Homo sapiens: one gene and its partners. The protein of the gene in region 3 interacts with the protein of the main gene of each other region in a biochemical or structural test. Each region holds a gene or a part of one and is shown on either strand. Other genes may lie near its edges.

Region 1 (3,500 bases), on a different chromosome or scaffold from region 3:
ACTTATTTAACCAGAGCACACTAGCATTTTACAAGTCTGATCAGCTAAGTTTCAAATACCTGTAACCCATCTGCTGAAAAAAGAGGGAGACTGGATTGACATAGGGCATAACTGCATCTTCTAACATCAGAAATGATGTTTAATAGAATTGGAGTGGAGAAAGGAGTACTTAATTTCTCCAGAGAATGTACAGCAGAGACGCACCTGCTTATCAAAGAAGCTGCTGTTGATGCTGAAGTTTCTTTTATCAACATATTCACCTGTAATTTCATCAAGGTAATAAATCCCTCTATTCATAACAGCACACTCAAAAGCACCCCTCCTATTTAACTTGAATGAAAAAAGGCACAGAGTGTCTAAAACATTTACTTTTGCTAATGTAACAGTGTTGGCATTTTACTTCATTCCTGATAAGCTGGTGCCAGTAGAAGTGATTATTCTTTTCTTATTCAAAGCCTATCAGCATTTCGAAAAGCTCTCTCAGTCTTATCAGGTGTATGAACAGCACAGTTAACTGAAAACAGTTTGTACTGCTCCTCTCTCTTTCTGCCAAGCTATCTGATAAACCCCCAACTAACTAACTGTATTTACACACAATCAAACATAAGTTGTATCTTCTATGCACTATAGCCAGATTCCAGTTTACCATAGGTTTTTCTGCTGTAACATTAACTTAGCAAAAATGTCAGCCTCCAGTATCCCAAACTGACAACAATCAAGAAAACACTATAAAAGCACTCAACTAGAATGCACTACAAACAGAAACAAAAAGAAAAACAAATATAAAAAGTTGAAGGCAATCTCTTTGGAATTCAGAGGGAAAATCAGGTGTACTCTGTATGCAAATATGGGTGAATATCATGCACTTACCTTTTACCAAAGTAAATGACCCTTTAATAAAACAGATGAATAGAAACAGAAATTGTAAAGGAAAATACTGCCGGGATAGAGGAAGGGAAGGTGTTTAGGAAAGTGTTTTAGAACTTAGCAGGCATTCCCCCCACACTTCAGGTTATCTCAATGTGGCAGCAGAGAAGTTCTATAATGTAAGCAAAGGAAGACAATAGACAATATCACCGAACTTACCCCAGAAACTGAAGACAAGATAGAAAGCAAGGCTGTCACATATGGTGACCACATTCTCAGGATAGATTTTCCAATCATTAAAACCCTCATAAATGCTCTAGACATTAAAGTTTTGTTCACTATAAGAAAATAAAGAAATAAAAAAATACAATTTGAGTTTTTAACCTCTTATTATTTGTCTTATTCTTCAGACTTAACCAACTGAATAGTTCAATATAAAGACATGAAAAAAGAATCATCATTCACATTAATGTAAATAGATGATCTGTTCTCCATTTCTATCTATTAAAAAATGCTTAAACTAGGTCATGGCTCATACGAATTGAAAGACACACCTAATCATTTACGGGTAGTACTTTGGAGCATGAAAGATAACAATGACATTTCTAGAGCATAAGAGAAATCGGAAATCTACTTGAATGACTGAGTAACAACAAATTCCTGACCCTAGGAAAGAATCTCTGCCTGAGCTTCTGTGCATAAATTGTCCATTTGTTCCTCACCTCCCTTTGCTGAATGACTACGAGAGAACAGAAAAAGGCGGCCACATGCTCCCACCTGAGCCCAACTCCTGATGCTGTCTAGACTCCAAGAACAGAATGAGCCTTCCTTTAGATGTGTAGAGCAATAAGATGAATTAGCCAAGTGTGTAGTTCAGTACAATTCAGCTGATAGTTGCTTTTCCATCTGTGACACTATGATCCCATGACTGATGAGGCAGGTCTCATTCAAGTCTATGGATAAAAGGGATGTTTCCGTCATTTCATAGGACCCAGCACCAACTGTATACAGTCACTTTCTCATAGGAAAAAGACATGGTTCTCACCAACCATATACATCTTTCCCTTTCTTTGGTCATGAACAGTTGGTTACGGGTATGATATTCCTCCTCAAAATATCTGATCTGTTTTAATGGATTAATGGCTGAAAAGAAATTAAAAATTATCAGAATATTCTTTTATTTATGTGAAAATGAATACAATTTAACATGCCCATCTTACATTTTTGGAGAAGTTAATGTACTAGGATAATTTGGAATTATGGAGGGCAAAGGGCAATCAATTGAACAACCTCACAGTTTATTTTTTTTCTCTTTAATGAGTACCTCAGTCTATAATTTTTTATATGACCTGTTATTTTGGTTAATTTTGGATGCAGTTCTGGATATATGACTAATATGCATTTACTATTATTTTCAAAGCAACATAAGTTCTTATAAATATTGTTACATAATAACTGCCTTGAAAAGTATCCTTTTAAGATATTTTAACTCACATTGTGAGTATGAAAAAAATACATATTTCTTTAATGAATCCTTTGTTCAAATTCTCAAAAGCCATGAAAAATGAGTAAAATCTTTCTAGAGTAGATGAAAAAGGAATTATCATTTACAAAGGTATTGTTGTGATCATGGAAAAAAAGAATTTAGTGTGCTTCTGCCTATTTTCTGTACATAAGTTCTTAATTTATATTTTAATTTTCTTTTGTTTTTGCATATTGAATATGCCATACAAAAAGAAAGCGTAAGATTTTTTTGTTTTCCAGAAAACATATGCAAAGTGCAACAAAAAGAGGTGTCCCCTGATAAAGGTGGATTGTCCGTGTTCCTTTGGATTCTCCACTTCTTCAAGTTTTTATTTACTTCATAAATAAGAGCCACTGAGGTTCACCACTTCAGAGACTTTTGTCTTTCTAAACCTATTTTACTTTCAAGGTAGTAGAAAAATTTGAATGAACCTAATTTATTTTTTTCTTGGAAACTTATTGCTATCTATGCTATCTGTATTCCTACAGTTCATTTTTAAAGATAAGTAAGCAAGCAAGCTGTTTTTTCATTACATTTATACTAGCCATCAATCTGATATGAGAATTTATTGGTAGCTTCCCTTTTATTTAGTACCATCTTAGCCAACTGTTTGCAGAAAAGGTGTATAATGAAGCAAAGTTAAATTGACATGTCTGTGATATGCCTGACAGCCCTCAGTATGCCCAATATTAATTTGTTTTCTTTGGCTAGGTAAGTCCTGCCAAAGCATATTACACATAATGTGTACTTCCAACCAAAATGATGAAAAGTATATATGAAATTTTGTTTCACTCAAAGAAAAATGAGAAGTCACAGAGGAATATATATGACAAAGACTGTTTTTTATAATTAAAATATAAATGTACTTTTCAGTTCTTCTTTTAGAATTTAATCTAATCTGAAGTAGGCTCCCTGTAAGTTTTGGCAATTTAATAGGTATTTAAAATTTTTTAAATGCCAAAACCAAGTGTTTTCCTTTTCTATATTGTTTGAAAGAATTCCATATAGCCATAGGTTGTATTTCTAATTGTTAGTGTTGCGTGGTTTATAGCTACATTCAAATGCACATATAGATCTTTGCCAGTATACTGAAATGGACTTTAACTGA
Region 2 (3,193 bases), on a different chromosome or scaffold from region 3:
GTTCTCAGCGCAAACCACCTCCCCGCTCCCCTCGGCCAGGGCCCCCCATCCCCCCACTCGGACTTCCCCACCCCGGGCCCCGCCGCGCGGAGCGGGTTCCCGAGCCCCGGCCGCCGAGGGATGACGCGGTGTTGACTCAGCCGGTCAAGGACGGCGAGGGCCAGCCCGGCTGCCGAGGAGAATCGATGGGGTCCGGACGGCCCCGCGCTTCACGGCGCAGCGGGCCTGGGCCTCGGCTCTTCCCGTCGCCTGGCGTGCCCGGGACTCGAACCCATCAGGCTCAGAATCCGCCGGCAGGAGCAGAGCCCCAAGGCAAACGGCCCGGGAGAGGCCCCAACCCACGTTCCAGGCACCCACCCGCGGTCCTGGGACTCGGAACGAGAGCCCCAGCAAGATCCAGCCCCAGTCACTTCCTGTCCCCAGAGCCCAGCACCGCGCCAAGCACCCAGGAGGTCAAGAAAAGGTGTGCAGACTTTTTAAAATCAAAGAATTAGACTTGCAACGAGGTCAGTCGTCCCACGGACGGCTTTATTTTATAGTCAAGTTACTTATTAAAAAAAAAACACATTTTGGCCATTTTTTTTACAGTGAACAATTCTATATACACATTATAAACATTGTTTGATATAAAACAGTATCTACAATCTACTTACATTTAATTAACCTGTGACTTCTAGTTCATCTGCGATTAACTTTAGTCAGGTCAGTTTCTCTGCTTGAATTGGGAGGTACTATCCCCTTAACACCTTGGTCAAACAGGTACTAAGTGATAGTGCAAAACAAGCATTTAAGATTCTCATCAACCATATCTCTGACAAAAAGAACACACATCTCTGAGACAAGAGCTCTGAAATGTTTTTGGATTTGAGACAGCAGTATAAGAATGTCATATAAAAGTAAAGAATGTTTTCCTTTTAAAATACTCCAAGGCTGCCTGAAATGTAGGCACCTCTGGATTTGGGGTACCCCTTTGCCTTTCCATTAAGTGGGAGATAAACAGATTACAGAAAAGTCGTTCAAGAAGGTCCTATTAAAACCTTTAAAGCTATAACTTAAAAATTTAACAAAAAGTTCAAAATTAATTTTTTATAAATAGTGAAAACCACTAACTGTTTTTTTAAAGGGGGAAGAATTTAATCACTATAATGTCACTTTATCAAAACAACCTAAGAGCAGTACATAAACTATTTGTTAAGTCAAAATTAAGGTCTCCATGTAGGTTTGTTAATTGAGCAGTGCACCAAATATTTTTAGGTTTCCAGAATACCAGAGAATTGATTCCCTTTCTTATATAGCCTTCCAGTTCTTCTATGAAGATTTTCTGTAGCAAAACATTATTCCTAAATCCAGTTTTCTGAACATGCCAATGCCAGTGGTCATCATCCAGCATTAAAATAGCTTTTATCGCCCTCAATGTCCACTTCCTGATCAGAATCCTCTGAAATCTCTGATTCAAGGTCTTCCTGGGAGGCAGGGGAGGGCGAACATTGAGAGCTATCCAAAGAAGCACCTTTATTCTGTTCACTGGGCAAATCTTGCCTCTGATCACAGGAACTGTCCAAACTTTCCAGTTCTTCTTTTTTATTGCTTTGAGGGTTCTCCTGAATAAAGGAAATGAAAATGGAGATTGGAAGGATCATAAAATATGGATAGGTGAGAGGAATAAATCAAAATGTCTCTTCATCCTATTCCATCTTTTAATTTTTAGTTTACTGAGTGTTTTCAGTTTATAATCTTATTCAGGAGATACATACTTGTGCTTTTTGCTCACTTTGGAAGAAAAGTTTCTGTCATATCAAAGATTATATGCTTAAAAGATGAGAACCAGTCATGAACATAAGGGCAGATACATTATACCAATTGAACACAAATTCTGGTTACTTAACACCAGCCCAGACCCATGGTTTCAATATTCTCAAAAGTTTAAGGGGGAAAGAAAATCAGATCACTACAGATACACCTTAACTTCATTCTTTAAATATTTAAACCTTGCCAATTAACAGTCTTTCAGACATTTTAAAAATAAGAATGCTAACTGGTGAATTAAGAATAAAGTTTCAATTATTAGACTGGATCTTTTTTCATTCATTTTCTGGAGTAAATTTATAAACATCTACATGTGTAAATGTTTAACAAGTTACAAAATCATGGCAAAGAAAAAAAATGTGGATCTGGAAGAATGCTGCCAACTGAGAAGGTAGACAATTAGCTACAATTTACTTAAAATCTGGGGCAAATTTCTGGGAAATATCCCCATATTACATAGAAACCACTATTTTTAAGGTCTCTGGTAAACTAGAGTCAAGCCTTTGACCAAGAACTATTAAGTATATAAGCTAGTGAATTTTTAATCCTATACTTGTCTAAAATGCATATAAATACTACATAGAAATATTACAACATCTATTTGTTATATAGTTGCAAGCCTTATAGTCTCAACAAATAGATGCACACGGTCAGAAATTGAGAGTGGATCTGCAAATATTTAAATCACATTACAGTAATGAAGTTATGGGAATTTTATTTTCTATTTCAAAATATTCTTTGGGACACTTTCTTTTTAATGAAAAAGTAATGATCAATAAATTTTAAAATCCACTTTGCTTTAAATTTCTCCACTCATTGTTTCAAAGTATTTATTATAAACCGTATATACAATGACAAGTGAACAATTCAGCAATTATCAGATAACTTTGGAGAGTATATCCAGATTAGGACATCAAAAATGAATGTTTAGCTTTAAGTCAATAGACCTTCTTTTAAAAACTAAATTAGCCTTTACTTTTTATCACATATTGCGAAACAAGGTCACTGGAAGAAAGACTGTCAGAAAGTTTAAGCTACTTTCCAAACAGGCTTGAATATTTTCTTACAAGTTTTATATTTCATTTTAAGAGCTGGCATTAGATAGAAAATAATTTTTAAACTCCCTGACATTTAATTCTTCTAAAAAACAGTGCAAACAAGACTTAAAGGTGTTTGTTTCTTTATATTTACCCTTGAGTTCTGCCTGGTTTTATTATGGCTGTGTAAATAAAAGAAACAATTTTCTCCCAAAGATAACTGCTTAAGTCATTTACTGTCAATTACTTTATCTTTCCTGCGTTAATTAGATAAACAACATATGGGATTTATAAAACAATTAGCTGGGAGTTTTACTAGCCAGTGTGTGAAAACCCAAGCATAATTGATA
Region 3 (3,500 bases):
GGGGACCTCTTGCAACTTCTTACATTAAGAAGTTAATGGTTGCTCATGTATGGAGCAATAATGGTCTAACTGACATAAAGTTTTATTTCCTTTAAAAAAAGATATTTCTCTAGACATTTTGAATGCCTAAGTTGGATGTTTGGCTCCCCTTTCCTTCCAGTGCCCTCTAGGCAAAGTTCTTAAGCATGAGGCACAAAGAGGGATATGACTGCGGGGTTTTTTTTTTATGGCATGTTTGCAGGTATGTTTGCCGACACCATATTGCTCATTTATAACATGGTGTTGGTCACCTTGTACAACCCCAACCCGAAGGACTTTCAGCTCTGTCCTTAAATTTAGAGAATGAGTGTGGAAAGGGAAAAGTCTGTCTGTTACAAGCTAAATCACGAAAACTTTTGATTATGCTTGTTGAGGACCCTTCTTCTCCGCGAGCAAGCCCTGCCCACTCGCCCCGGGAAAATGGAATCGACAAAAATCGCCTGCTAAAGAAGGATGCTTCTAGCAGTCCAGCTTCCACGGCCTCCTCGGCAAGTTCCACTTCTTTGAAATCCAAAGAAATGAGCTTGGTAGGTAAAGAAAACTGACACTTGCCTGTTTGGCAGTGTATTTTTCATTGTGGACTGGAGGACTCTGAAGTATTGGAAATGTGGGGGTTTTGCTGCTTGAGGGTTGTATTTTTAAGAGTTTAATAGTGAAACTCATCCTTCTGTTCTTTGTCACCATTCAGGGTTTACTTTTTCCCCTCAGTCATCTCTTTTCGGCCATGATTAGAGGGTGTACACGCATCTGTGTTCATTGCCTTCTTCTTCTTCTTCTTCTTTTTTTTTTTTTTTTTGAGACGGAGTCTCACTCCATCATCCAGGCTAGAGTGCAGTGGTGCAGTCTCAGCTCACTGCAGCCTCTGCCTCCTGGGTTCAAGCGATTCTCCTGCCTCTGCCCCCTGAGTAGCTGGGATTACAGGCGCGCGCGACCATGCCCAGCTAATTTTTTTTTTTTTTTTTTTGTATTTTTAGTAGAGATGGGGTTTTGCCATGTTTGTCAGGCTGGTCTTGAACTCCTGACCTCTTTGATCCACCCGCCTCAGCCTCCCAAAGTGTTGGGATTACAAGCCCAGCCTCATTGCCGTCTTACTTGGGGGATATGTTCTTGCCACACAGCTCTCTGAAACTTCCCAGTTGACAAATGGTTCAAACTTCTGAGATTCTTTTTTTTTTTTTCTGAGACGGAGTCTCACTCTGTTGCCCAGGCTGGAGTGCAGTGGCGTGATCTCGGCACACTGCAACCTCCACCTCCCAGGTTCAAACAATTCTCCTGCCTCAGCCTCCCCAGTAGCTGGGATTACAGGCACTCACCACCACGCCTGGTACCACCATACATTAGAGAGGGTGTACACGCATCCATGTTCATTGCCTTCTTCTTCTTCTTCTTTTTTTTTTTTTTTTTTTTTTTTTTTTTTTTTTTTTTTTGAGATGGAGTCTCACTCTGTCACCCAGGCTGGAGTGCAGTGGTGCAATCTTGGCTTATTACAGGGTTTCATGTTGGCCATGCTGGTCTTGAACTCCTGACCTCAGGCAATCTGCCTGCCTTGGCCTCCCAAAGTGCTGGGATTACAGGTGTGAGCCACCGCACCTGGCCTCAAACTTCCGAGATTCTTAAGTCTTCATTTTCTTAGGCTGGTCATTTACCTGGTAGACTGATCCTTAATATCGGGGCATGTCATAGAGCATGCCCCGATATTATGGAGCTCGTCAGATCAGTGATGCACAAAGGAGGCCCCAGGGGAAGCCAGGAACTGGTGCATCAGAACCCACTCATGTGGTCACTCATTCAATCAAACTTTGTAGACTGCATCATCTTTTAACAATAACATTTCATAACAACCCTTCAGTTAATCCTTACCTGGTCCCGGTAGGCATTATCCCATTTTACCGGTTGGGAGGGATGAATAACTTAACAAGGCTACACAGCCGTGGCTCATGATCCAAGGTCAGAAAGAGCTCTCTTTAGCCCGTGCTCTTTGCCACGCTGTAGTGGTTCTTGGACTGTGTTGTAAAGCACATGAAAGGTTGAAAGGCCAGAGAAGGTGCCCTGTAACCCTGTTACTGTCTGGTCTCCGAAAGGCCCCTTGCTGGTGTTCAGTCTCTGATCTGCACTGGTGGGTCCACTTTGGTTATGTAGGCAAGTGGGCAGTGACTCTTAACTCCAAAGTGTTGTTCTTTTTAGGCATATTGGTAAGGTTAGCCCTGGGGCTTTTGTCTCTGAGATACTGGCCCCACTCTCTCTCACCATTTGTCTCAATCCCAGGGCTACCTAAAAAGGAGACTTGAAAAGGGGTCTTCTGGCCTGGCGCGGTGGCTCAGGCCTGTAATCCCAGCACTTTGGGAGGCCAAGGCGGGTGGATCACGAGGTCAGGAGATCGAGACCATCCTGGCTAACATGGTGAAACCCCGTCTCCACTAAAAATACAAAAAAATTAGCTGGGCATGGTGGCGGGCACCTGTAGTCCCAGCTACTCAGGAGGCAGAGGCAGGAGAATGGCGTGAACCCGGGAGGCGGAGCTTGTAGTAGGCCGAGATTGCGCCACTGCACTCCAGCTTGGGTGACAGAGTGAGACTCCATCTCAAAAAAAAAAAAAAAAAAAGAAAAGAAAAGGGGTCTTCCTTGGACTTGGCGGCCAGGACATGTGTTTCTGAGTGCCTGGGAAATATTCTCTGGGTGGTCATCTTTCTAACTTGGCGTAGACCCAAAGTCCACAAGGCTGATGGAAAATACTTTTAAAATAAAATCTGCGGAGGAAGAAGTGTGATCATGTTCTGTGTCTCTAGCTCGAGTTTTAATTCTGGCAGGAAGAGGAAAGGTCAACATTTCTCGCTCACAAGTTAATGCTGTCAACATTGTGTGGATTTATGAAAATTGGCTGAGGGAGTAGCTAGAAGGTGCCCAGTGTCCCAGCTGCTGTTGTGATAAATTGTGTAATATGGCTTGGATTAAAAATAATACTCATTTAATTTGTTTAATGACACCAGCATGAAAAAGCCAGCACGCCTGTTCTGAAATCCAGCACACCAACGCCTCGGAGCGACATGCCAACGCCGGGCACCAGCGCCACTCCAGGCCTCCGTCCAGGTCTCGGCAAGCCTCCAGCCATAGACCCCCTCGTTAACCAAGCGGGTACAGCATCGCCTCTTGTTGTGCTTTGTTTGGTTTCTCCCATTCCCAGCTTGATTTGTTGTCTGTTAATGTTGTGACGCAATTGCCCTACAAATATGAAATGTACGTAGGGCCACCCTCCTTCCTATCTCTGAAAAAGCCATGATAAGAAACAGATGTTTGTCCTGGGGTTTCAGCAGCTGCACTCTGTTCAGTCTCCAACTGTTTACATTCAGCTTTTCTTTTTTTCTTGAGACGAAGTCTCGCTCTTGTCCCCCCAGGCTGGAATGCAATGGCGTGATCTCAGCTCACTGCAACCTCTGCCTCCTGGGCTTTGAGACGAAAGTCTT

The links. Proteins that work in one complex are often made in the same cells at the same time.
Region 1: the proteins of TLE1 (region 3) and ESRRG form a complex in vitro, tested with the Homo sapiens proteins (one study listed by BioGRID).
Region 2: the proteins of TLE1 (region 3) and HHEX form a complex in vitro, tested with the Homo sapiens proteins (one study listed by BioGRID).

The regions. Positions count from the first base shown.
Region 1 is NC_000001.11:216,713,430-216,716,929, forward strand, and holds part of ESRRG (estrogen-related receptor gamma), read right to left. Parts: intron 1,821-3,500; exon of another isoform or gene 1,645-1,820; intron 1,206-1,644; exon of another isoform or gene 1,087-1,205; intron 1-1,086. UniProt on the Homo sapiens protein: Orphan receptor that acts as a transcription activator in the absence of bound ligand. Binds specifically to an estrogen response element and activates reporter genes controlled by estrogen response elements.
Region 2 is NC_000010.11:92,692,955-92,696,147, reverse strand, and holds the end of HHEX (hematopoietically-expressed homeobox protein HHEX), read right to left. Parts: intron 1,602-3,193; coding exon 1,380-1,601; 3' UTR 501-1,379; downstream 1-500. UniProt on the Homo sapiens protein: Recognizes the DNA sequence 5'-ATTAA-3'. Transcriptional repressor. Activator of WNT-mediated transcription in conjunction with CTNNB1.
Region 3 is NC_000009.12:81,613,048-81,616,547, reverse strand, and holds part of TLE1 (transducin-like enhancer protein 1), read left to right. Parts: intron 1-413; coding exon 414-566; intron 567-3,026; coding exon 3,027-3,171; intron 3,172-3,500. UniProt on the Homo sapiens protein: Transcriptional corepressor that binds to a number of transcription factors. Inhibits NF-kappa-B-regulated gene expression. Inhibits the transcriptional activation mediated by FOXA2, and by CTNNB1 and TCF family members in Wnt signaling.